3 separate regions of the Homo sapiens genome follow, and all the other regions are linked to region 1. Evidence: fine-mapped expression QTL. A gene starts in region 1. Each other region holds a variant in brackets. All regions are shown on one strand. Distances are from middle to middle. Region 1 holds the start of POU6F1 (POU class 6 homeobox 1). Region 2 holds the start of DAZAP2 (DAZ associated protein 2). Region 3 overlaps GALNT6 (polypeptide N-acetylgalactosaminyltransferase 6).

Evidence for each region. PIP is the estimated chance that this variant, and not a neighbour inherited with it, causes the effect.
Region 2: its variant is fine-mapped to the expression of POU6F1 in whole blood (TOPMed, PIP 0.99).
Region 3: its variant is fine-mapped to the expression of POU6F1 in whole blood (TOPMed, PIP 0.99).

Annotation. Positions count from the first base shown.
Region 1 is chr12:51,212,457-51,223,372 of GRCh38, forward strand. It overlaps POU6F1 (POU class 6 homeobox 1), which reads right to left and starts at 5,606. Exons shown (of 11, transcript NM_001330422.2): 1 at 5,186-5,606. RefSeq lists silencers at 4,780-5,039, 5,270-5,429, 5,630-5,779, 7,887-8,066 and an enhancer at 5,930-5,989.
Region 2 is chr12:51,232,029-51,242,855 of GRCh38, forward strand. DAZAP2 (DAZ associated protein 2) reads left to right here and starts at 6,798. Exons shown (of 4, transcript NM_014764.4): 1 at 6,798-6,892; 2 at 8,315-8,433; 3 at 8,843-9,088; 4 at 10,302-10,827. The coding sequence starts at 6,880. The coding sequence ends at 10,430. RefSeq lists enhancers at 5,848-6,485, 6,577-6,871, 6,795-7,044, 7,761-8,397 and a silencer at 6,595-6,704. The variant C/T (reference allele first, on the strand shown) is at 7,090.
Region 3 is chr12:51,374,019-51,384,934 of GRCh38, forward strand. GALNT6 (polypeptide N-acetylgalactosaminyltransferase 6) reads right to left here. Exons shown (of 12, transcript NM_007210.4): 3 at 5,273-5,866; 4 at 3,177-3,349. The coding sequence starts at 5,763. Among named protein-coding and RNA genes, the nearest start is that of GALNT6, 12 kb to the right of the region's middle. RefSeq lists enhancers at 5,235-5,736, 5,737-6,236. The variant G/A (reference allele first, on the strand shown) is at 5,755.

The sequences.
Region 1 (10,916 bases):
GGAAAACACATTTCCCACCTTTGTCAAGAAATCTATAGTCCAGGCCGGGCGTGGTGGTTCTTGCCTGTAATCCCGGCACTTTGGGAGGCTGAGGCGAGTAGATCACCTGAGGACGGGAGTTCGAGACCAGTCTGATCAACATGGAGAAACCCCGTCTCTACTAAAAATACAAAATTAGCCTGGGGTGGTGGCACATGCCTGTAATCCCAGCTACTCGGGAGGCTGAGGCAGGAGAATCGCTTGAACAACAGGGAGGCAGAGGTGAGCCAAGATCGCACCATTGCACTCCAGCCTGGGCAACAAGAGTGAAACTCCGTCTCAAAAAAAAAAAAAAAAAAAAAAAAAGAAAGCTATAGTCCAATATGGGAGTCAAGGAAATAAGAAGGTAACTACAATACAGTATGCTTAAGTTTCATGGTGGGTGAACAGAAAGCAGTAAAGAATCTACAAGAGGGACACCTAACACCTAATGACCTAATGCAGTTGTTTTTTTTTTTCGAGGCGGAGTCTCGCTCTGTCACCCAGGTTGGAGTGCAGCGGCGGGATCTCGGCTTACTGCAACCTCCGCCTCCCAGGTTCAAGCAATTCTTCTGCCTCGGCCTCCTGAGTAGCTGGGACTACAGGTGCGCATCACCGCACCAGGCTGATTTTTGTATTTTTAGTAGAGACGGGGTTTCACCATGTTGCCCAGGTTAGTCAGGAACTCCTGACCTCAGATGATTCACCCGCCTTGGCCTCCCAAAGTGCTGGGATTACAGGCGTGAGCCACCGCGCCCGGCCTCTAATGCAGTTTTATGTGGTGCTTGTTCCCAGGGAGGCCTGTATTTCAGACATGAAATTTTATGTAAAAGAATCTTGTCCTATGTAGGAAAATGGAACTTGTATGGGATTCAGACTTTTAAACTCAGATCCATTTCTGGTTTTATTATCATTTTTTTTCAGAGACAGGGTCTTTCCATGTTGCCTAAGCTGGTTTCCAACTCCTGGGCTCAAATTATCTTCCCACCTCAGCCTCCCAAAGTGCTGGTATTACTGGCATGAGCCACCATACCTGGCCCATTTCTATGGTTTATTTTATTTTATTTTATTTTTTTGAGACGAGGACTTGCTCTTGTTGCCCAGGCTGGAGTGCAGTGGCATGATCTCGGCTAACTGCAACCTCTGCCTCCCAGGTTCAAACGATTCTCCTGCCTCAACCTCCCGAGTAGCTGGGACTACAGGCGCCCACCACCTTGCTCAGCTAATTTTTGTATTTTTAGTAGAGACGGGGTTTCCCCATATTGGCCAGGCTGGTCTCGAACTCCTGACTTTGTGATCTGCCCACCTCGGCCTCCCAAAGTTCTGGGATTACAGGCGTGAGCCACCACATCCGGCCTAATTTCGTTATCTTTAAAATGGTGACTAGGCCAGGCGCAGTGGCTCACACCTGTAATTCCAGCACTTTGGGAGGCCAAGGCAGGAGGATCACCTGAGGTCAGGAGTTCAAGACCAGCCTGGCCAACATGGGGAAACCCCATCTCTACTAAAAATACAAAACTTAGCTGGGTGTGGTGGCGGGTGCCTGTAATCTCAGTTACTTGGGTAGCTAAGGCAGGAGAATCGCTTGAACCGGGAGGCGGAGGTTGCAGTGAGCCGAGATCATGCCATTGCACTCCTGTCTGGGAGACACAGTGAGACTCTATGTCAAAAAAATAAATAAATAAAAATAAATAAATAAATAAATAAATAAAATGGTGATTAAATAGGCAAGCCCTATGGGATTGTTATGATGGTGATATGAGATCATGTAAATGAAATGCTTAGCATGACTCTTACCACAATCATCTTCATTTTTATCTATATGTACATAGAGGTAGAGAGAGGTCAGGTGACTTGACCAAGGGCACAGGAGAGTCAGTGGCAGATTCAAACTTCAAGGCTCTGTCGACCTGCCCCGGACCCCATCCTCCTGACACCACACAGAACCTCCTCTCAGGAAATGGGGGTAAGGCTGATGGGGACTGCTCTGGTCCCCAAGGCTCAGGACACACTGGAAAACAGAGGATCTCAATTCTGCTCCACACCGACGCCTGTCCCCACACCCTGAACCATGAGCAGAGATAACAGTCTTGCCAAGCTGTTGGTAGGCTAACAGCTAGGCACACACAGGCCAGAGAAAGGAAAAAGAATGATGAGGTGACCAAATAAATAGGAGAGTAGAGTCAAGGGTAGTAGCTCACACCTGTAATCCCAGCACTTTGGGAGGCTGAGGCGGGTGGATCACTTGAGGTCAGGAGTTGGAGGGCAGCCTGGCCAACATGGTGCAACCCTATCTCTACCAAAACATAACAAACCCAAACAAACAAATAAAAAATTAGCTGGGTGTGGTGGCGCAGGCCTGTAGTCCCAGCTACTTGGGAGGCTGAGGCCAGAGAATCGCTTGAGCCCAAGAAGGTGAAGCTGCAGTGAGCCAAGATTGTGCCACTGCACCCCATCCTGGGTGACAGCAGAGTGAGAACCTGTCTCAAAAAAGAAAAAAAAAAGAAATGTGAAAAATGAAAAGTAGGTATGTTCCTAGTAGACTGTAAGCTCCAGGAAGGCAGGGATCATGTCTGCTTATCATCATATCCCTGGTGCCTAAGATAATATCTGGTATATAACTAGGTTCATGAATATGGGCTGAAAACAATTGAAGATACGAGGTCACGTCATAGCCACATCACTTAGCCTCTTATTATTTCCTACCTTTTCCCTCAAAACACACACCCTACTTCAAATGTTTTGCCTCCATTTCCAGTACTGGGGCTACTTAAAAATGATTTCAAAGACGTGGTACAGGCCGGGTGTGGTGGTTCACGTCTGTAATCCTAGCACTTTGGGAGGCCGAGGCGGGCGGATTACTTGAGGTCAGAAGTTCAAGACCAGCTTGGCCAACATGGTGAAACCCCGTCTCTACTGAAAATACAAAAATTAGCCAGGCATGGTGGTGTGCGCCTATAGTTCCAGCTAGTTGGGAGGCCGAGGTGGGAGAATTGCTTGAACCCGGGAGGTGGAGGTTGCAGTGAGACCAAGATCGCGCCACTGCACTCCAGACTGAGCGACAGAGTGAAACCCTGTCTCAAAAAAAAAAAAAAAAAAAAAAGAGAGATTTCCAAGGTGTAGTATTGGGTTCTGGAGAACCCAGACCACACTGGCCCCTTCCTAAAGCGCCCGTCTAATTTCTCATTCCAAGCCTTCCTCCTGTGGCCAGTTTCTCCTGCATCCCACTCTCTCTTCTGCCTCATGAACCCTCATTTTGACATGAGGGGTCAAAGGCAGGTTTAAAGGCAGAAGACCCAGCTTGAGTACTGCTTCTACTAGAGGTAATCCCTATAAGCCTCCGTTTCCTTATCCAAAATGGAACCAAATTATAGTAACCACCTCATGGGTTATTGTGAGGATTAAATTGATAATATTTATGGAAGGCACTTAAAACAGGGCCTAGCATGAAGCAAACACTATATATATGTTTGTTATTATCATTGCTATTATTTTGAACTGAAGTAAAGCATGCATATAAAAATGTTTTAAATTATAAAGCATTTTAAAAATGTAAAAGATGGCCAGGCACGGTGGCTCACGCCTGTAATCCCAGCACTTTGGGAGGCCAAGACGGTTGGATTGCCTGAGCTAAGGAGTTCGAGACCAGCCTGGGCAACACGGTGAAACCCCATCTCTACTAAGATACAAAAAAATCAGCTAGACTCTGTCTCAAAAAAAAGAAAATGTAAAAGATTACTCTGATAATTTTATGGTGAGTAAATCTTGGGGACAAGAATATGAGCTTATCCCAAGTTCCTTCAAAATGCAGAAAAACCTTACAGGAGCAAATTTTTTCTGAGTCACTTTTCTTAACTGCCAGCTAGTACTTCCAGGAACAAAACAGAATAAATGGCTACATACACACACACTGACACACAATCACTCTATGGTATTACCTTGTTAGTTTTAATGTTTAGCATCTACTTGTCCACCCCCAGAATAAAAACTCCATGATAGAAGTTTTGTCTGAATTGTTCAGAGCATGGCACTGAGTGGGTATTTTTGTTGAACTAATGAAGAAATGAAGTTCTACAGCAGATAAGCGGAGTACCAGGTCACAGAAGTATCACTTTGAGGACCAGGACTTGAATGAAAATGGAATATATGGAATTATTCCTCAGAAGGCCTCTGCCAGTCAATGGTGGCTGCCTTAGATTGCTAAATAAGGGGCATGGGACACATGTATATGAACAATTGAAGACCAGCCCTCTACTTTTGGAACAAGGAATTTGGGAAGGGCAGATGAGGTTAAAAATCTCTGCAAAGAGCCTCTTTTCTTTGGCCCAGGAATGCTTCCCGAACTCTTCTGATTTCCCCCTGCCCAGCCGCAGAGGCTATTCTGTGAAGGTTTTAGGCTTCCAGTCGGGCTGAGTGGGGTATTCTGCCGCGAAAGTGGAGGTTAGAGGGTATGCTGGGAGCTCCCTTGGCCTTGCCAGGTGAGCCTGCCCAGGGAGCCTGCATCGGGCCCATTATTATGACTATTTATTAATAATAATATCGATATTAAATATTTATGAAGTGCTCATGCTCTGCTAGAAGGTGGCCCTCCCATCACTGACCCACCCTTCCAGCAACGCCTGGGTCCCTACCCCCGGGTCCCACCGGTCGTCCCGGAGTTTGTTCATTCGGGAGAACCGTGACAGGTCACCCTGGCCGCCCCAGCTGGCCCTAACCGCCGGGAACCCAGGCGTCCGTGTTCTCCAGAGAGGCAAGGATCCGCTTCTGGTCGCCACTGGTTCTGTGTACAGAGCGTCCCCTGTGGTCCGCACCCCACAAGGGCTCCAGGGGCAGAAACGGGGAGGGGCCAGGTCGGGGTTCCCCACCGGGTCCACCTGGCGGCCGCCCCCTCCGCTCCAGGTCCAGAGCGGCCCGCGGGCGGGCGAGGGCGCGGCCCCCGGGTGTCTAGCCCCAGCTGGGCAACCGCGCGCTGTCCCGCTCCCGCAGCTCCCCGCCGCCCCGGCCCAGCATCCCGCCGCCCCGGCCCCGCGGCTTTTTTTCTCTTTATCATAAATATATAAATTATGCTAATTACGGGCATTGCATATTAACCAAACCCGAAACCTCCCCTGCCCGGCCCCCTCCCCCTCCGTGCAAACCCCTCCCCGCCCCGGACCCCGCTACTTACCGGAGCCCGAGCCCGAGCCGCCTTCGCCGCGGGTGTCTGGCGGCCACCGATTAGAGATTCATCTCACAGCCCGGGCCAGGGGGCCGGGGCCGGGGCCGGGGCCACGGCGGCCGCCGCCCGCAGACAAAGAAGCCAGTGCGGCTTGGCTGGGCTCGGCTCGGCCCGGGAGCTGGTCGGGACCCGCCGCCGCCCCCAGGCCCCCAGCCTGGGCTGGGCAGAGCCGAAGGGGGCTCCGCAGGCTAAGCCGGGCGGAGAGGGGACGGCCGGGAAGCGGGAAGGGGAAGCCGGGTGGGGGGGCGGTCAGGTATATATTTTTCTTCGTTCCCCCTTCCACGACCCCCCCCTTTTCCCTCCCCCCCTTTTTTCCCTCCTTCTGCTACTTGGATTTTTTTAGCTGCTGCGTCATGAGCATAATTTATGCAAAGAGCTTTGCCGCATGCTGCACCGCCCGCGCCAGCCGCCGGGGGCGGCGGGCTGGGAGGGCGGTCAGGGAAGGGAGGGGAGCACGGGAGCCAGGAGCGAGGGGTGGGGGTGGGGAGGGGACCCTCTGGCCCTGGCCGAGCGGGAGGTCCCGGAGGCTCTCTCCCGGGACAGGGATGGACGGTCAGTGGGTCTGGTTACTCAGCCCCTCCGAGGTGCCGCGGAGGTGGTTTCATTTCGGAAGGTGCCAGAGTAGGAGCTGGAGTCCGGACCCTCCATGCCACATGGCCTTCAGCTGAGGGTTGGGGCGGTGACTCCCGGCCACCGCCTTTCCTCTAGGTAGTCAACTGTCCTCAATGTTGAAAGTCAAGTTTATGTCTATCCCTCCCTCCCTAGAAAGGCGGGGGAACTCAGACATCGCTCAGCCAACGTGGAGAACCTCTGAACAGCTGTGCCCCAGCGCCAAAGCAGCGAAGGGTCCCAGGTCTCTCACCCGGTGGCGGCCGTGGGCTGTGTTGTCTAAAAGCAGATTTCCGGCCTTCTTGTCCAAGTAGACAAGGAAATGTGAACAGAAAGACAAAGTTCAGTGGAATGGTGAAAAACCTCTAGCAGCTTCTTAAGGTAGAGAGGGGACCAGAAAAGGGGTGGATGTGGGTGGCTGAGGGAAAGCAGATTGGAGAAGTGGTGGACAACTGAAAGAGGAAAAAGTTGGAAGACCAAAGTGGAAGCGTGGGAATGGAGAGAAGAACTGGGAAGGAAGGAGGCTCTGTAAATCCAGTGAATGTGGATCCCAATACTGAGGCCACCTGCTGTCATCCTAGGCTGTTCCCCCTCCCACCCTCTCCCGATATTTGGTGGTCTGAGGATAGCTAGAGGTAGATGGGTTAGAGGCAGTGTGAGAATGCAGTTGGAGGCCTCAGTCCTCCCCGGGACTGCTCCGTAAGGCCTCGTGGTGGAAGGGCATTGAATGGCCCGGCCTCGTCGTTAACCTGGCCAGTGGACTAGGCTGTTATCAGCTTGCTGTTTCCATCTGGAAGTGAGCAGGTACTGCTGGCGGCGGATTTATGAGTAACCAATGTATTAGGAGTCAGAATACTTAGGTTTTAGTCCCAACTCTTCCACTAGCCGTCCAGGCAAGTAATTTAACTTCTTCATTACTTATAAAACAAGGATAATATTTATAATGACATTTATAATGACTACTTCATAGGGTTAAGTTTGTGAGCCTGTATGTGAAAAAACTGAAAGCTGCAAGCTCTATACAACTGTAAGGTGTCATTCCTTGTACAATAGTTTGAACTCGTTTTAATGGCCCTGTGAAACTCTACTGCGTGGCTTGATATTACAGTTCTTGGGGTTTTTGTTTGGCCGGTAGTCCCTGTAGTTTCTCTCCCTGGACTGTGAATTCTTTGAGAGCACTGGTTGTGACTTACTCATGTTTGTATTTCCCACTACTCTTTATGTGAAGGAGGGGCTCAGTATTGCTGCTGAACTTTGTCACATGAAGGTTGAAACTTTTCATTTATGTCACTTGGTTTGGTGCTACACATAGATCAAAGGCTTTGGATAGCATGGATATCAGCGACAGTTTGAAGAAAGAAATATGGATGTGATCAGAGGAGTTCAGGGAGACATACATAAAAATGTTAATCACGGTTTTCTTTATGTTGTATACACTTCTGCATTGCTTAAATATTTGATGAGCATATATTACTTTTTGTTTCTGTGTTTATTGGGGCATAACATGTACACAGTATGTGTATACCTTGATAAATTTTTACATGTATATACATATGTACGTGTATGTATGTGTGTATACATATGTACGTGTATGTATGTGTGTATACATATGTACGTGTATGTATGTGTGTGTATACATATGTACGTGTATGTGTGTGTATACATATGTACGTGTATGTGTGTATACATATGTACGTGTATATGTGTGTATACATATGTACGTGTATATGTGTGTATACATATGTACGTGTATATGTGTGTGTACATATGTACGTGTATGTGTGTGTATACATATGTACGTGTGTGTGTATACATATATACACGTGTATAGATACGTGTATACATATATACATGTCTATATATACATGTATATACTCACACACATATATATATCCATGTAATCCCCACCCAAAACAAGATATAGAGCCTTTCCAAGACCTGAGGATTCCCTTATGTACCTTCACCGGCCATAAATTCCCAAAGTAACCATTATTCTGATTTCTGTCACCATAGATTGATTACTTGAGCTGATTCTTGAACTTCTCATAAATGGAATCAGACAATATGCAATCTTTTGTGTTTGGCTTCTGTCACTCAACAAAATTTTTTTTTTTGAGACGGAGTCTTGCTCTGTCGCCCAGGCTGGAGTGCAGTGGTGTGATCTCGGCTCACTGCAACCTCCGCCTCTCGGGTTCAAGTGGTTCTCCTGCCTCAGCCTCCCAAGTAGCTGGGACTGCAGGTGCGTGCCATCACGCCCAGCTAATTTTTTTTTTCTTTTTTTTTTCGAGATGGAGTCTCGCTCTGTCGCCCAGGCTGGAGTGCAATGGTGTGATCTCAGCTCACTGCAACCTCCACCTCCTAGGTTCGAGTGATTCTCCTGCCTCAGCCTCCTGAGTAGCTGGGATTACAAGCACACGCCACCATGCCCGGCTAATTTTTGTATTTTTAGTAGAGATGGGGTTTCACCATGTTGGTCAGGCTGGTCTTGAACTCCTGACCTCATGATCCGCCCACCTCAGCCTCCTAAAGTGCTGGGATTACAGGCATGAGCCACCACGCTCCCAGCTAATTTTTTATACTTTTGGTAGACACAGGGTTTCACCATGTTGGCCAGGCTGGTCTCGAACTCCTGACCTCAAGTCATCCGCCCTCCTCGGCCTCCCAAAGTGCTGGGATTACAGGTGTCGGCCACCACACCCGGCCTCAATATATGTTTTTGAGATTCATCCATGTTGTTGAATGTAGAAGTATTTTTTATTGCTGTGTAGTATTCCATTGCATAATTATACTACAATTTATCCATTCCATTATTGATGGGCATTTGCTTGTTGTTTGGGCCTCTTAGGAATAAAACTGCTATGAGCATTCTTGTACAAGTATTTTGGTGAACATATGCACTTATTTCTTCCAGGTAAATACTGAGGAGTAGAATAGCTATTCTATTTTATTTAGCTTTTGTCCATACTGCTAAATAGTTTTCTATAGTGTTTGAACCAATTTATATCTTTATCAGCAATGCATGAGAGAGTTCTAATTGTTTTACATCCTCACCAGTATGTGGTATTGGTAGTCTTCTTGCAATGAAAGTTTATTACTTTTTGGCTGGGCGCTGTGGCTCATGCCTATAATCCCAGCACTTTGGGAGGCTGAGGCGGGTGGATCGCCTGAGGTCAGGAGTTCGAGAGCAGCCTGGCCAACATGGTGAAACCCCGTCTCTACTAAAAATATAAAAACTAGCCGGGCGTGGTGGTGGGCTCCTGTAATCCCAGCTACTCGGGAGGCTGAGGCAGGAGAATTGCTTGAACCCAGGAGACGGAGGTTACAGTGAGCCGACACGGTGCCACTGCACTCCAGCCTCAGTGACAGAGTGAGACTCCGTCTCAAAAACAAAAAACAAAGTATATTACTTAAAAAATTTTTTTTTCTTTTTTTGCCTGGGCATGCCAAAGACCGCACCTGGCTTTTGTTGTTGTTGTTGTTGAGACAGAGTCTCACTCTTTAGCCCAGGATGGAGTGCAGTGGCACGATCTCCACTCACTGCAACCTCTGCCTCCTGGGTTCAAGCGATTCTCCTGCCTCAGCCTCCCAAGTAGCTGGGATTGCAGGCATGTGCCACCGTGCCCAGCTAATTTTTGTATTTTTAGTAGAGACAGGGTTTCACCATGTTGGCCAGGCTGATGTCAAACTTCTGACATCAGGTGATCCGCCTGCCTCCACCTCCCAAATTGCTAGGATTACAGGTGTGAGCCGCCACGCCTGGCCTAATATTTTATTATTTTTATTTTAAAATTTTACTTTTTTTTGAGACAGAGTCTTGCTCTGTCACCCAGGCTGGAGTGCAGTGATGAGACCTTGGCTCACTGCAACCTCCACTTCCCGGGTTCAAGCTATTCTCCTGTCTCAGCCTCTCGAGTAGCTAGGATTACGGGCATGCACCACGATGCCCGGCTAATTTTTGTATTTTTAGTAGAGATGAGTCTTCACCATGTTGGCCAGGCTGGTTTTGAACTCCTGACCTCAGGTGATCCACCTGCTTCGGCCTCCCAAAGTGCTGGGATTACAGGCGTGAGCCACTGCACCCGACCTATAGTATTTTGTTATAACAGCCCAAACGGACTAAGACCCATCGATACTGATCCACTTTCAGGTTCTTAAACTTCGAGCTCTTTCCTGCCTTCATTGTGTCTGCCTATGCTGTTTCTTCTGCCTCCTCCTTAGCCCATCTTTCAGGCCTTGCCTTATATATGGCTTCCTTCCTCAGAGACATTTTCCCTGCACTTCAGTGTTATTTTGTCTCGTATCACCTTCCCGTTTTCTTAATCACCATGTGTGCTGATGTATTTGTATGTTTATTTTCTATTTAATATGTTTACCGAGTAGGCAGTAAATTCCAAGGCAACAGTCCATTTTGTTTTTGACTGGACATTTGGCACCAAGCCCAGTTATCTGGCACACAGTAGATAATAATTACTTATTGAATAAATGAAGGCTCGGAAAGTTGGGGAAATGTGAGTGAAGGAGAAAACGAAAACGTGCTGGGCTGAGAATCCTGTTGAAGAGTTTTATTTGGCCGGACACGGTGGCTCACGGGTGTAATCCCAGCACTTTGGGAGGCCGAGTCAGGTGGATCCCGAGGTCAGGAGTTTGAGACCAGCACGGCCAACATAGTGAAACCCCGTCTTTACTTTTTTGTTTGTTTGTTGAGACGGAGTCTCGCTCTGTCACCCAGGCTGGAGTGCAGTGGCGTGATCTCGGCTCACTGCAAGCTCTGCCTTCCAGATTCATGCCATTCTCCTGCCTCAGCCTCCCGGGCAGCTGGGACTACAGGTGCCCACCACCACGCCTGGCTAATTTTTTTGTATTTTTCTTTTTTTTTTTTTTTTTTTTTTTAGCAGAGATGGGGTTTCACTGTGTTAGCCAGGATGGTCTTGATCTCCTGACCTCGTGATCCTCCCACCTTGGCCTCCCAAAGTGCTGGGATTACAGGCATGAGCCACCGCGCCCAGCCCCGTCTTTACTAAAAATACAAAAATTAGCCTGGTGTGGTGGCATGTGCCTGTAGTCCTAGCTA
Region 2 (10,827 bases), 20 kb after region 1:
GGTGAAGCCCCACCTCTACTAAAAATACAAAAATTAGCCAGGCATGGTGTCGGGCACCTGTAATCCCAGCTACTCAGGAGGCTGAGGCAGGCAGAAGAATCGCTTGAATCCGGGAGGTGGAGGTTGCATTGAGCCGAGATTGCGCCACTGTACTCCAGCCTGGGCAACAAAGCGAGACTCTATCTCAAAAAAAAAAAAAAAGGCACACCCATGAAACCATCACCACAATCAAGGCAATGAGTATATATTCATCAGTCCCAGAACTTTCCTACATTCCATTTACAACCTCCTTCCTTCCCCTTCTGCTTCCCTTCACAGCAACCATTGATCTGCTTTTTATCACTATAGTTTGTATTCCTAGAATTGTATATAAATGGAATCCAACGGGCACAGTGACACATGCCTGTAGTTCCAGCTACTTGAGAGGCTGAGGTGGGAGGATTCCTTCAGCCCAGTTCAAGGCTGCAATGAACTATGACCACGCCTATGCACTCCAGCCTGGGCAATATAACAAGACCCTATATCTAAAAAAAAAAAAAAAATTCTATAGTATGTATTCTTATTTTAAAAATCTGCTTCCTTTACTGAGCATAGATTATCCATGTTGTTTTGTGGATCCATACTTTATTCCTTTCTACTGTATGGCATTAAATTTGTTTATCCATTTACCTGTTGGTAGACACTTTCATTGCTTCTGATTTTTGGATATGACAAATAAAGCTGTTATAAATATCCATGTATAAGTCCTTGTGTACCCATGTGTTTTCTTTTCTCTTGGGTAAATACCTAGGAGTGGAATGGCTAGATCATGTGGTGTATGGATGTTTAACTTCTAAAGACCCTGCCAAACTGTTTTCCAAAGTGGTTGCACCATTTTGTTCTTTCTTATTATGACCAGCAGTTTGCCCTGACAGAGGTTGCACCATTTAAGATTTTAACCAGAGTGTGTGAGAATTCCACTTCCTCCACATCCTCTCCAACACTTGATGTGGTCAGTCTTCTTTTACTTATTTTTATTTTTTAAAATTTAAACAGAGATGGGGTCTCACCATGTTGCCCAGGCTAGTCTTGAACTCCTGAGCTCAAGTGATCCTCCCAAAGTGCTGGGATTACAGGTGTGAGCCACTGCACCCTGTCCAGTCTTAATATTAGCCATTGTAATAGGGAAGCCAACATTGTTTTAATTTTTTGACTAGGTAAGCATTCACATGGTTCAATGTTTTTGTTTGTTTGTTTTGGAGCATCATCCAGGCTGTAGTGCAGTGGCTTGATCTCGGCTCATTGCAACCTCCATCTTCCAGATTCAAGCGATTCTTCTGCCTCAGGCTCCCAAGTAGCTGGGATTACAGGCGTGTGCCACCACACCTGGCTAATTTTTGTATTTTTAGTAGAGACGAGGTTTCGCCATTTTGGCTAGGCTGGTCTCGAACTCCTGACCTCAGGTGATCTGCCTGCCTTGGCCTCCCAAAGTGCTGGGATTACAGGCGTGAGCCACTGCGCCCAGCCTCATTTTTTTTTTTTTTGAGACAGGATCTTGCTATGTCATTCAGGCGGGAGCCCAGTGGTGCCATTATCTTCACTGCAGCCTCGAACTCTTGGACTCAAGTGATCCTCCCACCTCAGCCTTCCAAGTAGTTGGGACTATAGGTATGTGCCACCACACCAGGCTAATTGATTTACTTTTGTGTGTGTGGAGATGGGGTGTCATTATGTTGCCCAGGCTGGTCTCGAACTCCTGGCCTCAAGTGATCCTCCTGCCTTGGCCTCTCAAAGTGCTCGGATTATAGGTTCAAATATTTTTAAACGTCTAAAAAGTATATAGTAAAAAGTCACTTCCACCTTTGTCTCACATCCTCCACTCCCTCTCCCCCTTATGTAACCACTTTTATAGGTATTTTGTGTATCCTTCCAGAATTTCTTTACTCAAATTCTGATGAATATTCTTGGTTTCCCTGCTCTTTGACATAAAAAGTATCATATTGGCCAGGTGCGGTGGCTCACGCCTGTAATCCCAGCACTTTGGGAGGGCGAGGCGGGTGGATCTCTCGAGGCCAGGAGTTCGAGACCAGCCTGGCCAACATGGCAAAACCCCGCCTGTACTGGAAATACAAAAACTAGCCAGGCATGGTGGTGCACACCTGTAATCCCAGCTACTTGGGAGGCTCAGGCACAAGAATTACTTGAACCTGGGAGGCAGAGGTTGCAGTGAACCGAGATCACGCCACTGCATTCCAGCCTGCGTGACAAGAGTGCAACTCTGTCTCAAAATAAAATAAAAAATAAAATAAATAAAATGTATCACACTAAGTATATGGTTTTGAATCTTTCCCTTTTTTATTTAAAGAACACCTTGGAGTACTTTCTCATTCTCTGTTGCAGCCACATAGTATTTTATTGTATGGATGTATCAAGATTTATTTTTTCTGTTTCCTATTGATAGAAATATGGGTTATTTCTAATCTTTTGCTGTTACAGAAAAGCTGCAATGAATAGCCTTATACATACGTTTCTCGTGAGTGCAAATATATCTGTAGAATCACTCCCATTAGTGGGAATGGTATGTTTGCAAGTTTGATGGATATTGCCAAATTAACCTTATAGGATTTGTACCAATTTTCACCCCCATCACCAACAAATTAGAATGCCTGCTTATCCACAGCCCTGCAAATAATGTTAGCAAATGTTTGGATTTTCGCCAATCTGATAATGATATCGGTGGGGTTTAATCTGCCTTCTGATTACGACCCAGGCTGAACATCATTTCATGTGTTAGGGAGTCATTTGTTTTTCCTTTTCTGTGAACTGTCTGTCTGTAAATGTCATTTGCCATTTTTTTCTAATGGTTGATCATATTCTTACTGATGTCTAAGAGTTCTTTACATGCAGGAAGATTAGCTCTTTGTGATGTAAATTACAAATATATTTTTCCAATTTGTCATTTGACTATATGGAGTTTTGACTTTGTAGAAATTTTGTCCTGACATTAGTCCTGGAACTAGTCCAGTTGTTTCTGCTTCCTGGATATTTCTGGAATCCCCCCATTTCTCTCTACTGTACTGCCTCTTCCCTAGGCCAGTCTGCCATCATCACACCTAAATGACTAAATTTGATTCTAAATGGTATCTCAGACATACGTCCACTCTTGCCCTTTCTTTAACCTATTCTATATTCTTTAGCAACCAGAGGGATTTTTCCTTTTCTTTTCTTTATTTTTTTGAGATAGCCTCTATCACCGAGGCTGGCAGAGTACAGTGGTGTGACCACGACTCACTGCAGCCTCGACCTCCCGGGCTCAAGCAGTCCTCCTATCTCAACCCCTCGAGTAGCTGGGATCACAGGTGCGTGCCTCTATGCCTGGATACTTTTTTAGAAATTTCTTGCCGAGATGGGGTTTCACCACGTTGCACAGGCTGGTCTTGAACTCTTGGGCTCAAAGAATCCTCCTGCCTTGGACTCCCAAATTGTTGGGAATGCAGGCATGAGCCACTGTGCCTGGCCCAGAAGCATTTTTCTAAAAGAAAAACACAAGCCAGGAGCAGTGGATCACGCCTGTAATCCCAAGTTTGGGAGGCCGAGGCAGGAGGATTGCTTGAGGCCAGGAGTTCTAGACTACTCTAGGCAACAAAGTGAGACTCTGTCTCTATAAAAAATTTAAAATTAGCCAGGCATGGTGGCAAGCACCCACTGTCCCAGCTACTCGGGAGGCTGAGGTGAGAGGATGAACTGAGACCAGGAGTTCAACGTTGCCGTGAGCTGTGACTGCACCACTGCACTCCAGCTTGGGTGACAGAGCAAGACCCTGTCCCAATCAATCAATCAATCAAACAAAAACAAGATCATATCACTTTCCTGCTTAACATTCTTCAGTGGCTAACTAGTGCCCTTAACATAGAATCCAGTATCTTCATGTGGGATCTTACATGGGCTCTAAGGCGTCCCTGCAAGGTCTGGCTCACAGTTCTTCAGCGTCAATTTTTTTTTTTTTTTTTTTGAGACAGAATCTTGCTCTGTCACCCAGGCTGGAGTGCAATGGCACGATCGCGGCTCACTGCAACCTCCGCCTCCCAGGTTCATGCAATTCTCCTGCCTCAGCCTCCCAAGTAGCTGGGATTACAGGCACGCACCACCATGCCCAGCTAATTTTTGTGTTTTTAGTAGAGACGAGGTTTCCCCATGTTGGCCAGGCTGGTCTCGAACTCCTGACCTCAAGTCATTTGCCCGCCTTGGCCTCCCAAAGTGCTGGGATTACAGGCATGAGCCACCGCACCCGGATCTTCAGGGTCATCTTTTATCAGTCCCCTTACCAGTATGCTCTGGCTACACTGAACTCTTTCATGCCCTCCCCCTCTATAAGCCTTCTCACCTCTAGGCCTTTGCATAAGCAGTTCCCTCTTCCAGGAACCCTCTTCACTTGCTTAACCTGCTCTCACCCTTCAGATTTCATCTCAGACATCACTTGCATCAGGAAACCTTCCCTGACTACATCAGAATAGAGTAGGTGCCTCACCTATGTGTTCTCCTCACACTCCATGCTGTCTTTATGTCAGCACTAATCATATTATGTGTTCACTTTTCTGTCTCTCCCATTAGGTAGACCATAAATTCCATGAGAGTATGGACTATGCCTGTCTCTTCATTATTATTTCCCTAGTGCCTGTCACAGGGCCTGGCACATAATAGGTGCTCAAAAAATATTTGTTAAATTAATGTAAGAAAGAATGTTTGATAAATGACCAAATAAACATCTTCATCTCATTGGGGAATCTACGAGAATGAAGAAAATGCCAAAGTTTGATCCTGTTCAAGAAAGTAGCTAATTACTACTACTTTTTTTTGTAGAGATGAAGTCTCACTATGCTGCCTAGGCTGGTTCTGAACTCCTGGCTCAAGCGATCCTCCTGCCTAGGCTGCCCAAAGTGTTGGGATTACAGGTGTGAGCTGTTGCACCCAGCCACCATTTACTTCTTAATTCCACCTGCCAGAGAAAGCACTGGCCTGCAACTCTTTCATTTTTGTTAGTAATCTCATTTGGCTCTGCCCTGGTTTTCCCAATGCCCAGGTCCCACTGTGACAAGCAAAATACCCAACAACCTGTAAAGTAGGCCTGACCAATCTGAGGGCAGTTTACATGAGCAGGAGGTAGGCCCAGGAGAGTTCCTGGGTCCTAAGAGTTAACCCTTTAATCATTGGACAATGGAGGTGGCAAGATCGCTTGAGGCTGGAAATTCAAGACCAGCCTGGCCAACACAGGGAGACCCCATCTCTGTATTAAAAAATGAATAGCACGTGCCTGTAATCCCAGCTAGTCGGGAGGCTGAGGCAGGAGAATCGCTTAGAACCCTGGAGGCGGAGGTTGCAGTGAGCTGAGATTGCGCCACTGCACTCCAGCCTGGCGACAGACCAAGCCTCTGTCTCAAAAATAAATAAATAAATAAATAAATAAATAAATAAATAAATAAATAAATAAAAATAAGGCTCGGCGCAGTGGCTTATGCCTGTAATCCCAGAACCTTGGGAGGCCGAGGCAGGTGGATCACCTGAGGTCAGGAGTTCGAGACCAGCCTGGCCAACATGGTGAAACCCCGTCTCTACTAAAAAATACAAAATTTGCCGGTCGTGGTGGCGGGCACCTGTAATCCCAGCTATTCGGGAGGCTGAGGCAGGAGAATTGCTTGAACCCAGGAGGCGGAGGTTGCAGTGAACCGAGATCATGCCACTGCACTCCAGCCTGGGCGACAGAGCAAGACTCCATCTCAAAAAAAAAAAAAAAAAAAAAAAGAAAAGAAAAAATTAAAACTTTTTTTAGAAAGAAAGAAAACCAGCCTGGCCAACATAGTGAAACCCCGTCTCTACTAAAAATACAAAAATTAGCCAGGAATGGTGGCGCACGCCTGTAGGCCCAGCTACTCAGGAAGCTGAGGCAGGAGAATTGCCTGAACCCGGGAGGTGGAGGCTGTGGTGAGATCGCCCCACTGCACTCTAGCCTGGGCAAGCGAGCAAGACTCCGTCTCAAAAAAAAAAGAAAAAGAAAAGAAAACACTTAATCGCTGCCCTAAAGGATGCCATCTTTGCCCTTAAGGATAATTAGGTTAGAAAGAGAAGCCATACATAGAGAAAAATAGAGGTACCATACAGGTCACCTGCAACAGGTGCTAAAAAAAGGAAAGGGCCACAAACACTCCATGGGTAGTGCAGTTATGTCAGTTTCAGTGCCAGGTGTTGCGTACAGCACGGAAAACATAACCCCTTCCTGTACGTGAGAAAGGCAACGACTGTCCTGGGGAAGACAGGGCAGCGAAGATTCCAGTGCAGGTCTCATTCAGGAAAGGATACATGTGAGCTGGAGTGGCAAAATAAATTTTAACAGAGCTGAAGCTTAAGTTGGGCTTGGTGGGGAGGGACGCATGATAAACTAAGGTGTGGGGAGCCGATTTCAGGCAGTGCGACAAATTTGCAGAAATCTAAGCCCCTCGTGGAAGGTTGCCAAGGTGAGGTGACCTTGAGTGAATGCGTGTAGGTGGAAAAAGGTTCCGGGGAATGCTTGCATCGTTCTGCATCCGAGCGTCCAACAGAGAAAAGATCCTGTTTCCAGACAATACCTGCATTTGGTTTTTCTCCAGCTGAGGGACACCGGTAGGGGGGGGGAGGACAGAAACGAGCAGGGGGTGGGGCCAAGGCGAGTGGGCGGGACCGCGCGGACCCTCCCGCGGCCGACTGGAGGCCCGGAGCAGGGGCGGAGTTTCCGGCGGCAGCGCCACTCGGGCGTCGGGTGACGCTAGGCGGACGGACCATCATGTGACACGGAAGTAGCTCCGAACAGGAAGAGGACGAAAAAAATAACCGTCCGCGACGCCGAGACAAACCGGACCCGCAACCACCATGAACAGCAAAGGCAAGGACCGAGGGTGGCAGAGGCCGTCGGGGGGAGTACTGCTGGCCCAGAGCGAGCGGATTCGGAGCCCAGGGTCACCAAACGCCAGGTTTGGGGTGGGCTGCGCCATGCTCCTTGGCCGGCTGCAGTCCAGGGCGCTGCGCCTGACGCCTTCGTCATACCCAAATTACGGCAGCTTGCTGCCTCCAGGCCCTTTC[C/T]TCCGTAAACTCTGTGGCGCAGTTTGGAGCTGCGGGCTCGGGTGGTGGGGGGGCTTGACATGATGGGCATCCGCAGGAGCAAATAGAGCGCTAGCGCAGGCATTCGCGTAGGCCAATGGAGAGCCGGCGGAGGCGGGGCGCCGCGCTCCGGAACCCCCAGCGGGGCCGAACTTAACTACTGAATTGCTGGAGTTGGTTCGTGGGCCGGGGCCTGTGAGGTCTCTTTTCCTTCCCTTCGCACCCCCTCGCCCTTCGCTGACGGGATCAGAACTTCTCCCCTTTTCTGTGGTTGTACCAGTGTGTCTGTCGGAACATGATTCCCATAACGCAGGAATAGGTTGAGGGGGTAAAAAAGGAATAGAAAAAAAAAAAAAAAAAAGGCCGAGCGAGGTTGCTCACGCCTGTAATCCCAGCAGTTTGGGAGGTCGAGGCGGGCGGATCACCTGAGGTCAAGAGTTCGAGACCAGCCTGGCCAACGTGGTGAAACCCCGTCTCTATTAAAAAATACAAAAATCAGCTGGGCGTGGTGGCGGGCGCCTGTAATCCCAGCTACTCGGGAGGCTGGGGTAGGAGAATTGCTTGAACCCAGGAGACGGAGGTTGCAGTGAGCCGAGATCGCGCCACTGCACTCCAGCCTGGGCAAAAGAGCGAGACTCCGTCTCAGAACAAACAAAAAACCAAACCTGATCCCCCGCTTTTCCAGTGAGGATATTCCTCCTCACCCCTCAGCCCTGCACCCTTTTCCCAGTCTCACGGTTCACTTCCATCATTCACACCCTTTGTTTGGAAGTCGACCTTGAATAGTAATCTGTAAGGAAAATCAGAACTGCTGTTACCCACGAAGTCTGGGCTGGTTGTAGACAGGCTGTGGAGACTACCTAGAGCAGAGGCACCCTTGATAAGCCAGAACAGCAGCAGGCCAGAACCCCAGACCTGTCCTGCATTCCGGAGGGAACTTGGGCCCAGGTAGACTTAACCCCTTACTTCGGTATGTTAGTAGGAGCAGTGAGCAGTGCCTTTCTTGTCTCGTTAGAATCCAGCACCTTCCATTTTAAGGGTGCAAAGACAATGCATATTTTCTTAGTTCCAGGAATCAGGCCCTCTGGGGCAGACTATTTGCAAATCCCCTTCTGCTTGCTCCCACTAAGTTAGCTACCCGATATGACCTGCCTCATTTTGGTAGCTCTGTGTAGTAGGCAACCTTCATTTTTTTCTTGTCTTTCAGGTCAATATCCAACACAGCCAACCTACCCTGTGCAGCCTCCTGGGAATCCAGTATACCCTCAGACCTTGCATCTTCCTCAGGCTCCACCCTATACCGATGCTCCACCTGCCTACTCAGAGGTGCTTCCAGTTTGCCAGATTTGAACTAGCTGGGAATACTCTTAGGGTGGTCCTTTAGTCCTTAGCTAAATCTGACTTCACATATTTACTCTTCACAAATGCTAACATGAATAATCTAAAACACTATATAATTTGGCAATTTTTGTCGGAGTTGAAAGTGCATTATTTGATGATTTTGTGTTATTTGGCACAGGCTAAGGTGCAGAAGATGAATTTGCGTTCTGTGAGCCCAACATTAGCTATAGCAGAAAGTGATCCAGGAGAATATTGAAGGCCAGTGGAAAGGCAACTTGTATAATCTTACAAAAAGTATAACCTGCATAAGGAGAATTAAGAATTAGCTCATTAAAGAGATCTCAAATAGGAATGTCATAAAGTAACATTTTGCCTTCTCTTCTGCCTCTTCTAGCTCTATCGTCCGAGCTTTGTGCACCCAGGGGCTGCCACAGTCCCCACCATGTCAGCCGCATTTCCTGGAGCCTCTCTGTATCTTCCCATGGCCCAGTCTGTGGCTGTTGGGCCTTTAGGTTCCACAATCCCCATGGCTTATTATCCAGTCGGTCCCATCTATCCACCTGGCTCCACAGTGCTGGTGGAAGGAGGGTATGATGCAGGTGCCAGATTTGGAGCTGGGGCTACTGCTGGCAACATTCCTGTGAGTATGACCTCATCAGAAGAAACTCAGCCCTTGTGTATTTTAACTTTCTGAAATGACTTCATATTCATTCTCTTACCATTTCTGGATGATAGTTGCCAGTGTTGGTACAACTACTGACATCCAATACTCAGGCAGAAAGTGTTTGAGGGGGCAGAACTGTGGCAAGTGAGTAGCATCTCACTGGGGGCTGAGTTAACCAGATTCTTTTGTTTTCATGTCTGTCGAGTCCTGCTTGCTGCTTTTCCAGTTCATTGTGGTACACTGAACTGGTCTAGTAATGCTCCTTATTCATTCCATAAGCATTTACCATTTACTTAATATTTGCCATCAGCATGGTGTTGCACTAGGAACCCTGATAATTAAAAAAGTAGAATGTATAATCCCTAGTAAGTAGCTTTTAGAAAGATATTAACAATTTTAGTTATCATTTTTTCCTACTTAATTCCCCAGTGCGTGGGATTTAGAGCTCAAATGACTGCTCAGTAACTACATGCTAGAGATGAAGTGAATGTGTCATTAGCGAGCCTTCAGTTTTCCAGTAGTTCATTCAAAAACTGTGTAAGGGCGAAGCACGGTGGCTCACCTGAGGTCAGGAGTTTGAGACCAGGCTGGCCAACATGGTGAAACCCCGACTCTACTATAAATACAAAAATTAGCCGGGCATGGTGGCAGGCGTCTGTAATCCCAGCTACTTGGGAGGCTAAGACAGGAGAATCACTTGAACCTGGGAGGTGGAGGTTGCAGTGAGCTGAGATCCCACCACTGCACTCCAGCCTGGGCGACAAGAGCAAGACTCTATCTCAAAAAAATTAAAAAAAAAAAAAATTAAAAATTAAAAACTATGTAGGGACCATGTGGGATTCATACATGGACTGGCACCCTGTCCCTGTTTTGGGAATGTGAGTAGGACAGTGGTTCTCTACCCTCAAAATGACTGTTGGTCTGGTCTGTTCATGTTCAGAAGGTAGCCATAGGCTTCATCTTAGAGCTGGAACCCTTTGAATGAGTGGTAGGCTCCCTTTCCTGTTTGTATCTTTGGGTTCACATAAAGTATAGACCTACTTTAGAACTCAAATTGGTGGCGGAACTAGCTCCTTAAAACGCAGCTGGTTAGCACATTGCCTCATCCTAACAGGCCTCTGCTTCCCCTATGTCCCCTTCGCTTATATTAGCTGCCCTGTGCCCATTCTATCATGTCATTTCCTTTCAGCCTCCACCTCCTGGATGCCCTCCCAATGCTGCTCAGCTTGCAGTCATGCAGGGAGCCAACGTCCTCGTAACTCAGCGGAAGGGGAACTTCTTCATGGGTGGTTCAGATGGTGGCTACACCATCTGGTGAGGAACCAAGGCCACCTCTGTGCCGGGAAAGACATCACATACCTTCAGCACTTCTCACAATGTAACTGCTTTAGTCATATTAACCTGAAGTTGCAGTTTAGACACATGTTGTTGGGGTGTCTTTCTGGTGCCCAAACTTTCAGGCACTTTTCAAATTTAATAAGGAACCATGTAATGGTAGCAGTACCTCCCTAAAGCATTTTGAGGTAGGGGAGGTATCCATTCATAAAATGAATGTGGGTGAAGCCGCCCTAAGGATTTTCCTTTAATTTCTCTGGAGTAATACTGTACCATACTGGTCTTTGCTTTTAGTAATAAAACATCAAATTAGGTTTGGAGGGAACTTTGATCTTCCTAAGAATTAAAGTTGCCAAATTATTCTGATTGGTCTTTAATCT
Region 3 (10,916 bases), 160 kb after region 1:
CCAGCTAACTTTTCTATTTTTTATAGAGATGGGGTCTTGTGACATTGCCCAGGCTGGTCTTGAACTCCTGGCCTCAAGCAATCCTCCTGCCACAGCCTCCCAAAGTTCTGGGATTACAGGCATGAGCTACTGTGCTTGGCCTATTTTACTTTATTTGTATCTTTTTTAGAGACAAGGTCTCACTCTGCCATCCATGCTGGAGTGCAATGGTGCAATCACAGCTCACTGCAGCCTCAATTTCCTGGGCTCAAGTGATCCTCCCACCTCAGCCTCCCAAGTAGCTGGGACCACAGGCAAATACCACCATGCCTGCTAATTTTTTATTTTTGTAGAGATGGGATTTTGATATGTTGCCCAGGCTGGTCTGGCCTTGCTTTATAAGTGCTGCCAAGTATCTGTCTTCCCTGGGAAGATGTGAGCTTCCTGAAGAAATGAACTCAACAGGGCTCACACTCAGCCCTTCCTTCCACAGCCCTAGTCCTCTTTTCAGCATCACCCCTAACCTAGAGGAAGGAGGGAGGCTGGGGGAGGACAAGGACAGGAAGCAGCTCTACTGGAGTGGCCCCAGCGCTTACACTGGGAAGTGTGGAGTCAGTTCCTGCCCTCACTATTGGGAGTTTGAGCACAGGAGGTCAATCTGGGAGAGCCCCAGACACCACATGCCTCCTACGAGGAGGGCTAAGCTTGTGGAGACTCTCAGCCTAAAGGTGTCTCAGTCCCACAGCCTTTCCTAGTTCAGGCCCCATCATCTCCTACTCTCAAGTGAGTGTAAGAACTTCCTCTCCAGACTGTGAGTCCTCTGCCTCTCTTCCTGCCGATTATCCTCCTCCAAAGCTGCCATCCTTCTGAAATGAAGTCACAGTACAGATGAAACACTTTCAACGACTCCTTCTTACTTTCTAAATAAATGCTTTTAGCATGACATGAATGTCAATTCAACATTTTTTTTTTTGAGACAGGGTCATGCTCTGGCTCAGCCTCCCGAGTAGCTGGGACTACAGGCACATGCCGTCATGCCAGGCTAATTTTTGTAATTTTTATAGAAAAAAGGTCTTGACATGTTGCCCAGGCTGTCTTGAACTCCTGGGCTCAAGTGATCCACCCGCCTCGGCCTCCCTAAGTGCTGGGATTACAGGGGTGAGCCACTGTCCCTGGCCAATTTAACATCTTTTAAGTCTCATTTCCTAAACAAACCTAAGCTTCAGCCACACCAGATCTCTTTAACAAACACATTCATGTCTTTAGGACTGTGCTTATGCCATTCTCTTGTGGGAATGCCCTTCATCCACTCTTCTCTCTTAGACACTCATCCTTTAAGGCCCAGCTCCAATCTGGCTTCCACTGCAGACCAGCCCTAGCCACGCCAGGCAGAAATGGCACCTCCTGGCTACATACTCCATGGTGCATTGTTCTCGTACCATGAATAAAATGGAATGCATGCTTGTGACACTCTTACTTGATGCCAGCCACTCTGTGGCACATGAATCTCATTTATGACCTATCTCATATCCCTCACCCACCATGTAAGGGACTCAACTGCTCTTTTTTTTTTTTTTTGAGATGGAGTCTCACTCTGTAGCCCAGGCTGGAGTGCAGTAACATGATCTCGGCTCACTGCAACCTCCGCCTCCTGGGTTCAAGCGATTCTCCTGCCTCAGCCTCCCGAGTAGTTGGGACTACAGGCATGCTCTGCCACGCCTGGCTAATTTTTGTATTTTTAGTAGATACGGGGTTTCACCATATTGGCCGGGCTGTCTCGAACTCCTGACCTTAAGCAATCTGCCTGCCTCGGCCTCCCAGAGTGCTAGGATTACAGGCGTGAGCCACCACGCCCAGTCCTTTTTTTTGTTTTGTTTTTTTGAGAAGGAGTCTCACTCTGTCTCTCAGGCAGAAAAGCAGTGGTGCCATCTTGGCTCACTGCAGCCTACGCCTCCCGGGTTCAGGTGATTCTTGTGCCTCAGCCTCCCGAGCAGCTGGGACTACAAGCGCGCACCACCACACCTGGCTAATTATTTTTTGTATTTTGGGTAGAGATGGGGTTTCACCATGTTGGCCAGGCTGGTCTCAAACTCCTGACCTCAAGTGATCTGTCCGCTTCAGCCTCCCAAAGTGCTGAAATTACAGGCTTGAGCCACTGTGCCCGGTCTGCCCCCATTTTTTGAAGAGGAAACAGGTTCAGGGAGGCCAAATGCTTGTCCAAGGTCACAGAGCTAGGAAGGGTCAGAGCTGGGATTTGAATTCCTAGGTGTTGGACTCTGCAGTCCATGCCCTTTCACACCTGTTACAGGTGCATCACTGCCACAGCACTGTGGCTAGTGTTGTAAGAGGCTTCTGGCCGGGCACGGTGGCTCATGCCTGTAATCCCAGCACTTTGGGAGGCTGGAGCAGGCAGATTACCTGAGTTCGGGAGTTCGAGACCAACCTGACCAACATGGAGAAACCCCATCTCTATTAAAAATACAAAATTAGCTGGGTGTGGTGGCACATGCCTGTAATCCCAGCTACTAGGGAGGCTGAGGCAGGAGAATCGCTTGAACCTGGGAGGCGGAGGTTGTGGTGAGCTGAGATCACACCATTGTACTCCAGCCTGGGCAACAAGAGCGAAACTCCATCTCAAAAAAAAAAAAAAAAAAAAGGCTTCTGACCTATGGGGGTTTTTAGTATTTTCAGGGCAGGGTCTGTCTCCTTTGTCATGGCATCCCCTCTGCCTGGGTCAGAGCCAGGCACACAGTACTCAGTAGATGTTTGTGGAATTGAAGGCTGGAAGTTTGGTGAGCAACCCCACTTACCTATCAACAGCTATGGCAAAAAGGGCTGGTTGGGGAGTCTTCAAGAGCAGAAGAGTGGCCCAGCGGGTAGGAAACAGAGGTGAAGGCCTGTCCCTACCCTCTGCCCTGTCTCTCCCAGCATTTCTGAGTTAGGGTTGGCCTTGGCAGCGTTCAGGGAGTCTTGAAGCCAGAGCTGAAAAGCTCTTGGAGCTCTTTGGCTGAGGTGTGAAGGAAGCATGGTCTACCTGCCCCTACCTGACTTCTTCCTGCTCCTGGCCTTTAAGATGAGCTGTGATGTCAGGCAACAGGCTCATGAGGTGGTGCCTGCTCCCTTGAAAGGAACTGCCCTCCTCCTTTGAGTGCCCAGGGGAGACCCCGGCCCCCTCCTCTGGGCCCCTCCAGCCTCACCCTCTGTGCTGGCATCATCCACCAGTATGATCTCCTTGAGCAAGATGGCAGGGGTGGTGTGTAGGACGCTGTACACTGTTCGCAGCAGTGTGGACCAGGCTTCGTTGTGGAACACAATGATCACGCTGGTGGTGGCCAGTGGGGGGCAGCGCCGGAACTTCTGGTCCACACACCTGGAAGTATGAAAGTACGGACAAAGTTCTCCTGGTCCCTGGGAGTACCAGGTGTGGGGAGGGCCCCATCCAGAGACTCCCCCAGACCATCCTCCACTCCTCTGAACCACAGCCTACATTCTCTATAGCAGGTGGGAACAGCTGTTCCCTGTTCCTGTCTTCCCCGGTATCTGCCACCCACCCTGAGCCTTTGCACAGGTTCTAGCCAAACCACTCCAAAATCCATCCCCACAGAGCTGGCTCAGTGCCCCAGCTGTGATGCTGAGGCTCCTCCACCCCCTTCCTTCATCTGCTATCTGCTCTCAGGCTAGGAGTTCCCAGGGCTGGCTCTCTTCCTCCGTAATATGTGAACTGCATAAAATGTAATCCAATCCAGAGGTCCCAGAGGGGTAGGTAATAAAGGCCAAATTTGACATCTGAGAAAAGTGACTATGATTTCCATACTCAATGAGAAGAAAAGGCTCTTCCCTTTACAGCGTACAGTTCCTCTCTAATCCATTTTCTCATTAACTCCCTGTGATTTGACACCACTATCACAGTCAATTTCCTGCAACCTTTCTTCCAACTTCATCCACTCCAGCTACTCTGTGGCACTTGGCCATGCTGCTACCTTCTTGACACTCTATCTCAGGGTTGGGGTGGGAATGTGTGAATCCTGGATCTCAAGGAATCATGTGACCTCACACCCTTTCCTTGACCTCCTCTGCTGGTCAGAGGATTTCTTGGGGACCCTCCAGAGAGATTCCCTGTCTTCCTCCTCTGGCTGCTGTCACACCCAGTGCTCTTCTCTCTGTCTGTTTTTTTTGAGACAGAGTCTTGCTCTGTCACTCAGGCTGGAGTGCAGTGGTATGATCTTAGCTCCCTGCAACCTCCACCTCCCAGGTTCAAGCGATTCTTGTCCTTCAGCCTTCTGAGTAGCTGGGATTACAGGCACCCACTACCATGCCGGGCTAATTTTTTTGTATTTTTAGTAGAGACAGGCTTTCACCATGTTGGCCAGGCTGGTCTTGAACTCCTGGCCTCAAGAGATCCACCCACCTCAGCCTTCCATAGTGCTGGGATTATAGGCATGAGCCACTGTGCCTGGCCCCAGTGCCCTTCTCTGCTGAGGAATTCCTGATAGCTTCAAGTGGCCCCTTGTTCTAGGGCTATCATACTTGGCTCAAGTCTCAAGAACCTCAGGTTCACAGCCCTAAAGACTCACGAAATCTGGGGATGAGGGCTGCCATTTGAGAAAAGGCCAAATAGGGTATAACACTTGACCTGGAAAAGACAAAGGCTAAGTGGGGAAGACACACTGTCTTTAACTTGAGGATCATGGGAATGCAGCCATGGGGGCGTTAGAGGGAGGGGGCTGCCACTCAAAGATCTAAGTGAGATCTCATTGTGCAAGATTGAGGCTATAAACAACTTCAGATAAAGGTTGGAATCAATTCCGGCCTTGTGGGCCTTCACTGGAGGAAACCAGGTGTGAGGATATTCCTAACCACCAGGGTTGCTGTTAAGAAATGCCCACCCCCCCCCCAAACAGCTCAGCATTAGAGTCCCACAGTCTCTGGAGCAGGCCTCAGTAGAGGAGAAAGCTACTGAAACCACAGCTTGGTATCAGGTCTCCCCAGTCACCCCGTGCCAGGTCCTGGTGCCAGGCTGAGTTCCTTCTTCCACATCATCTCACTTTCATAATTGCATTTCACTCTCACAGGTCTCCCTGGGCCTCTGGCCTGACCATAATACCCTTGAATCACAACCCCTGGGATCAGCACAGTTGTTCTGGGAAAGAAGTGAGGCATAGAGGAGATCCTTGCCCATATTATAAAATTCCCTTCAACTCTTTCTCTGGCCCTTGATCTATGGCCCTGGCCATACTAGCCATGCCTTTAGCAAAGCCCTGGTCTCCCCACAAGGACTCTGGGTGCTACTTACTCAGGTGGTCGGGTGTCTGGCCCCAGGGACCTCTGCAGGGAGATCCGGTCGCTGGCAAAGGCATTGAAACAGTGCTTCTTATAGCCTTCTTCCTTTTCCTGGGTCTCCAGGGGGGTCCACTTGCTCTTCTGAAATGCTTTTCCATCTGCCCCAGGGGCATTGGGGTCCTGTGGTGGCCGTTCCCAGAAGGGCTTCAGTTCAGCTGGGGTATAGAACCCAGGGAGGCAGGACTGGTTTATGGAGAACAGAGTCTGCTGGGCTTCTGGAGCCCTGATTTGGAGCTTGGGCATTGAATCTCTAAGGTTGTTCATGGCCTCCAGCATGAGGTCCAGGACGTGATCCTTCCGGCTCACCAGGGACTTCAGCCACGGCTTCTCTGTGGCCTCCTCTCTGCTGCTCACATCCCTATGCAGGAGGAAGAGGAAGAGCACAAAGGCGCAGCCCACCATGGCCAGGCGCAGGGGCATGTGGCGTCTGCGGAG[G/A]AGCCTCATCCTCCAGAACCAAGGGGCACCCCAGCTGCGTCAGCTCTGAGTCCTGAGCCCAACCCTGGAGATAGCTTGATACGTTGTGGTGGCCACAAGCTGGGGCCTCAGCCTGAGAAAGGAGGGGACAAGAGAGAGAAGTGAGCCAACACAGGGTAAGGAGGGAGTCGGGTGCTTGGGGTTCGAGGCCAGGCTCTGTTGCTGAGTGGTGGCATCACCTTATTGGCCACAACTTTCCCATATCTACATTTCCTTCATCCATAAAATGAGGAGACCGGAGGCAGTGTTTCTTTCCTGCCCTAAGATCCTAATATGCATGGATCTAGAGTCACTGGAACACTGAAACACTACATGAGATTTAATCATTAAACTCATGAGATTTAATCATTATGGCTTTGGGAAACAACTTGGTATTATCAAGAAAAATTTGAAATGAACACAGCCTGAGCCAGCAATTCCACTCCTCATTTTATATCCCAGACAAACTCTGGTAGATGCAAACCAAGAGGTATGTACAAGAACATTTAAGCCAACACTGACTTAAATGGCAACAAACTGGTAAAACCTTTAAGTCCACTAGCAGAATGAATAAATAAAGTGCAAAATACCCATACCGTGCAGTGCTCTACAGTGATGACCAAGAATGAACCACTTCTCCATGCAACAATGTGGATGTGTTGTTGGGTGAAAAAAGCAAGTGACAAAAGGATACATACAGTATGATTCCACTTATAGAAAATGTAAAAACATGCTAAAATTAAACAATATCTTGTTCTTGAATACAAATATGTGATAAAGCTATAAAGAAAGCTAAAGAAGACTAGCCTGGCCAACATGGTGAAACCCTGTCTCTACTAAAAATACAAAAATTAGCTGGGCGTGGTAGCGCATGCCTGTAATCCCAGCTACTTGGGAGGCTGAGGCAGGAGAGTCACTTGAACCCGGGAGGCAGAGGTTGCAGTAGGCTAGGATCATGCCACTGCACTCCAGCCTGGGCAACAGAGCAAGACTCCGTCTCCCCACGAAAAAAAGAAAGCTAAAGAAATGACATAACCAGTTTCTGAAGATGAAGAAAACGGTACAGGATTAGAGATGGTTAATGGGGGACTTCAAAGTGTTTTTTTCTCAAAGTGGATGGCGGCTGCTGGTGGACTGTAATTCTTTAGACCCTATACGTATTTTATAAATATTTCTTGGCCAAGCATGGTGTAATCCCAGCACTTTGGGAGGCTGAGGTGGGAGGATCGCTTGGGCCCAGGAGTTCAAGACCAGTCTGCTCAACGTATTGAGAGCCCATCTCAATAAAAAATTTTAAAAATTAGCGAGGCGTAGTGGTGCACACCTGTAGTCCTAGCTGCCTGGGAGGCTGAAGCAGGAGGACTGCTGGAGCCCAGGAGGTTAAGGCTGCAGTGAGCTATAATCGCACCATTGCTCTTCAGCATGGGCGAGAGAGAGATTCTGTCTTTAAAAATAAATAAATAAAAGTTATCTGTAATCTACTCCTATTTAATAAAAAAGAATTTAACAGAAACCTAAGATTTCATGACAAGACATTCCCGGCAGGGCTGGGCATGGGCGTTCACCAGGCTCCACCCCCAGGCATGTGGATCCATGCCCTAGAGGATGAATGCTTGCAGAACTTTCTGTGCAGAGTTCTGGACACATAAGCTCACTGGTTAAGCACTAGACATCAATGGCAAGGGACCTGGGCACAAATTCCAGTTCTTCCTCTTCTAGTAGTAGCACCTACCTCCTAGGGTTGTTACAAGGATTATGCTCCTTCCCCACAAAATTCATGGACAAAGCTTAGCAGTCTCTGCACATGGTAAGTTCCCACAAAGTGTTAGTTTTGATCATTAGCAGCTGTGTGACCCTTGGGTAATTTACTTAATCCCTCTAAGCCTCAATTTCCTCATCTATAAAGTGGGGGCAACTAATACCTAACTCACAGGGTTGTGGGGAGGATTAAATCAGATAATGTAGGTAAAATGTTTGGCAGAGCACCTGTCACACTAAGCCCTCAATAAATGGTATCAACTATTTCTATTATTATGATAAATCCCTGCTTCACTTCCCAGCAGTTATCCTCAAGCACCTGGCCCTTGGCCAAAGCCACGTTCATTACTCCCTGCATGTTTTGCTTAAAAATAACTCTGGTTGTACTATTTAATGCTATTGTTTAAACGCACAAGCTCCTGCCTGTGGAGAGGCCTGGTGTCTGAGACCTTGGGAGTATGTGGCCATCGTGATCTCAAGTGGGGAGGTGGATTCATTCTGGACTGGGGTACAAATGTGGCTTCTTTTATAACATCAGATTCAGCAGCACCGTCAAAAATCAAACAAAAGAAATCTCTTTGAGCATCTATTTTGTATTAACTATTGTCTAGGAGATAGGAGAGATTTGTTTATTCCACCAGTATTTACTGAATAACTGCCTCTACCAGGTACTCTGCAAGAGGCGGGGGACACAGAGAAGTGCAAGGCCAGCCCTCAAGGATCCTACAGTCAATTGGGGGCATCAGATTTTAAACAGAGATTACCCTGTGAGAAGCAGAATCAAAGAGGTACCCTTGAGTGCTGAAGGAGCCGGCATGCAGGAAACTCAGCAAATGGGGGAGGGCAACATCTGTGAAGAAATCTCACGGGGGCAGAAATGGGCCGAACACTAACTGGCGAGTAGGAGTCAGCGAGGCGAGGTGAGCACATTTCAGGCAGAAGGCACAGTACCTGCAATGGTCTAGAGGTGGGAGACAGAAGAGCCAGTCACAGAACTGTAAGCAGTCTGGTATGGCAGGAGTAGCAGAAATTGGGCCTACAGAGGTGGCTGAAACCAAGTCCTAAGGGCCTTGTTCATCATGCTGAGGAGCATTTGCCCTTGACCCAAGGCATGGGGAGTAATAAAGCGTTAAGCTGGGAGCCCAGCATTACAGGAAGAGCAATATGACAGCGGTGGAGGGTATCTTGGAAAGGGACCTGCTTGGCAGCTGGATGACCCATTCGGAGTCTGACCCAGGAGAGTTAGTAGCAGTGTGGATGGAAGAGGGAGGGTATGGTGCCTAGGAAGACCCCCTTGGGTGATGGGGTGGGACAGTTTACCCCGTCTGGTACACAGAGGGACACAAAGGCTCAATTCCTTTCCCCAAGGGATTTGAAAATCTTATTGGAGAACGAGAACTGATAGCACTGACCAGGTGAAGGAAGCACCTGACCAGGGGAGATTCAGGAGCAGGAAAAGGACCTTTCACTGAATACTCTTTTGTACTTTGAACCCTGACTATATTACTTATTCAAAAATGAATAAAATTAAAGCAGAATAGCACAGACAGTAAGAGCTAAGCTGAGAGAGGTAGAGTTCCCTGTGGGTTTGAGGAAGGCTTCGGGGAGGAAATGGGGATTCAGTGTAGCAGGAGTTTCTTGTCACAGAGGTTGAGCTATGCTGGGGCTAGCACAGGGGGATTTGCTTGAGCTAGACACCTCATCAGTTCTGGAACTGTCCCGGCTAAGCCCACACAGAGGCCTGCAGAATGGGGGAGTGTTTGCCATGACAGCTTTGAACCGTCCTGCAGGCTTCGTCTTCCCTGCTACTTTCCATCTACCTTCCCACTCCAGCAAGAAAGAGGGAGCACAGTTAGAAACAAAGGCATGGTAAGATTGTAGTTACTAACTGTTGCCAGTGCTCAAGACTCACCCCCTCCAGGAAGGCCTCCTGACTGATTCACTCAGAATCACCTAGGTTACTCCAACTCTTTCATCCTGGCACTGCCTCGTGGTCCCTCACAGCAGGGCCTGTTTTTGCTTCTTTTATTTTCCCTGGAGAAAGAAATATAGGGTTAAATTGAGCTCTTCCTAGGCATCTAATCTCTCAATCCCATCTGGCTGCCTGAAGCTTTCTCTCTCAAACCTACAGTTCCTCAAGGTACTAACCACATCCTGAACCGAAATGAGACACCTGGGATTAGCCTTGGTGGTGAGGCACTCATTCTCTAGTTTGTTTGCTTAGCATGAGGGCAACAGGAAGAGTCCCTTAGAAGAGACACAGAATCTAGTGCAAGCCACAGGACTTTGGGGTTAAGGATTTCTGCTCCCTGTGTAGGAGATGATTCCCAGAAGTATGGTTAGCAAGGTCGTGGAGGTCGCCCCTCCACCAGCCTTGGAGAAAGAATAGCTGCTATTCTTTGCTATTGTTTCAAGTACAAAGCTTCACGAGATCCGCCCCTGGTGTCTTGTATATCTCCCTCACCTTTGGGCTCCCACACCTGGCCTCCTGCTTTCCTGGCAAGTGTGCCCGCAGCCCCCATCCACTCATTTCCCTCTCGCTGTGGCTCAGCACTTCTTCCCAAGTCTTTTTCCTCCAGCTACCCTTGGGCCTGCAACTCTTTGGACCATCCTTGGCTTTGATCCCGAGATGATGCCAGAAATCCTCTCTGAAAAGCCTGCCTAGATTGAACAAATGGGATTTGCTTCCCTGGCCCCACCGGCCAGAACACAAACTTACCTTCTCTCACTGGTGTAAGGAACTGAGGCTTTACCCAGCCCAGCTTGTATCAAACTGCTGATTACAATCCACTGTGATATTATAAAATAAATTCAGAGTGTTGCAAATTAGCATTCAAAAATTTCTTTAAAAGACCAGTTAGGACCAGGCACAGTGGCTCACACCTGAAATCCCAGCACTTTGGGAGGCCATGGTGGGCAGATCACTTTAGGCCAGGAGTTCAAGACCAACCTGGCCAACATGGTGAAACCCCTTCTCTACTAAAAATACAAAAATTAGCCAGGCATGGTGGCATGTGCCTGTAATCCCAACTACTCAGGAGACAGAGGCAGGAGAGTTGATTGAACCTAGGAGCTGGAGGTTGCAGTAAGCAGAAATAGCACCACCGTACTCCAGCCTGGGTGACAGAGCAAGACTCTGTCTCAAAAAAAAAAAAAAAAAAAAGACCAATTAGCAAAAAGAGACCAGTTAGCTGGGTGTGGTGGCATAGGCCTGTAATCTCAGCTACTTGAGAGGCTGATGCTGGAGGATTGCTTGAGCCCAGGAGGTTGAGGCTGTAGTTAGTTATGATCATGCCACTGCACTACAACCTAGGCAATAGAGCGAGACCCTGTCTCAAAAAATAAAAATAAATAAATTTTAAAAACCCAGAATAGAATGAAAAGAA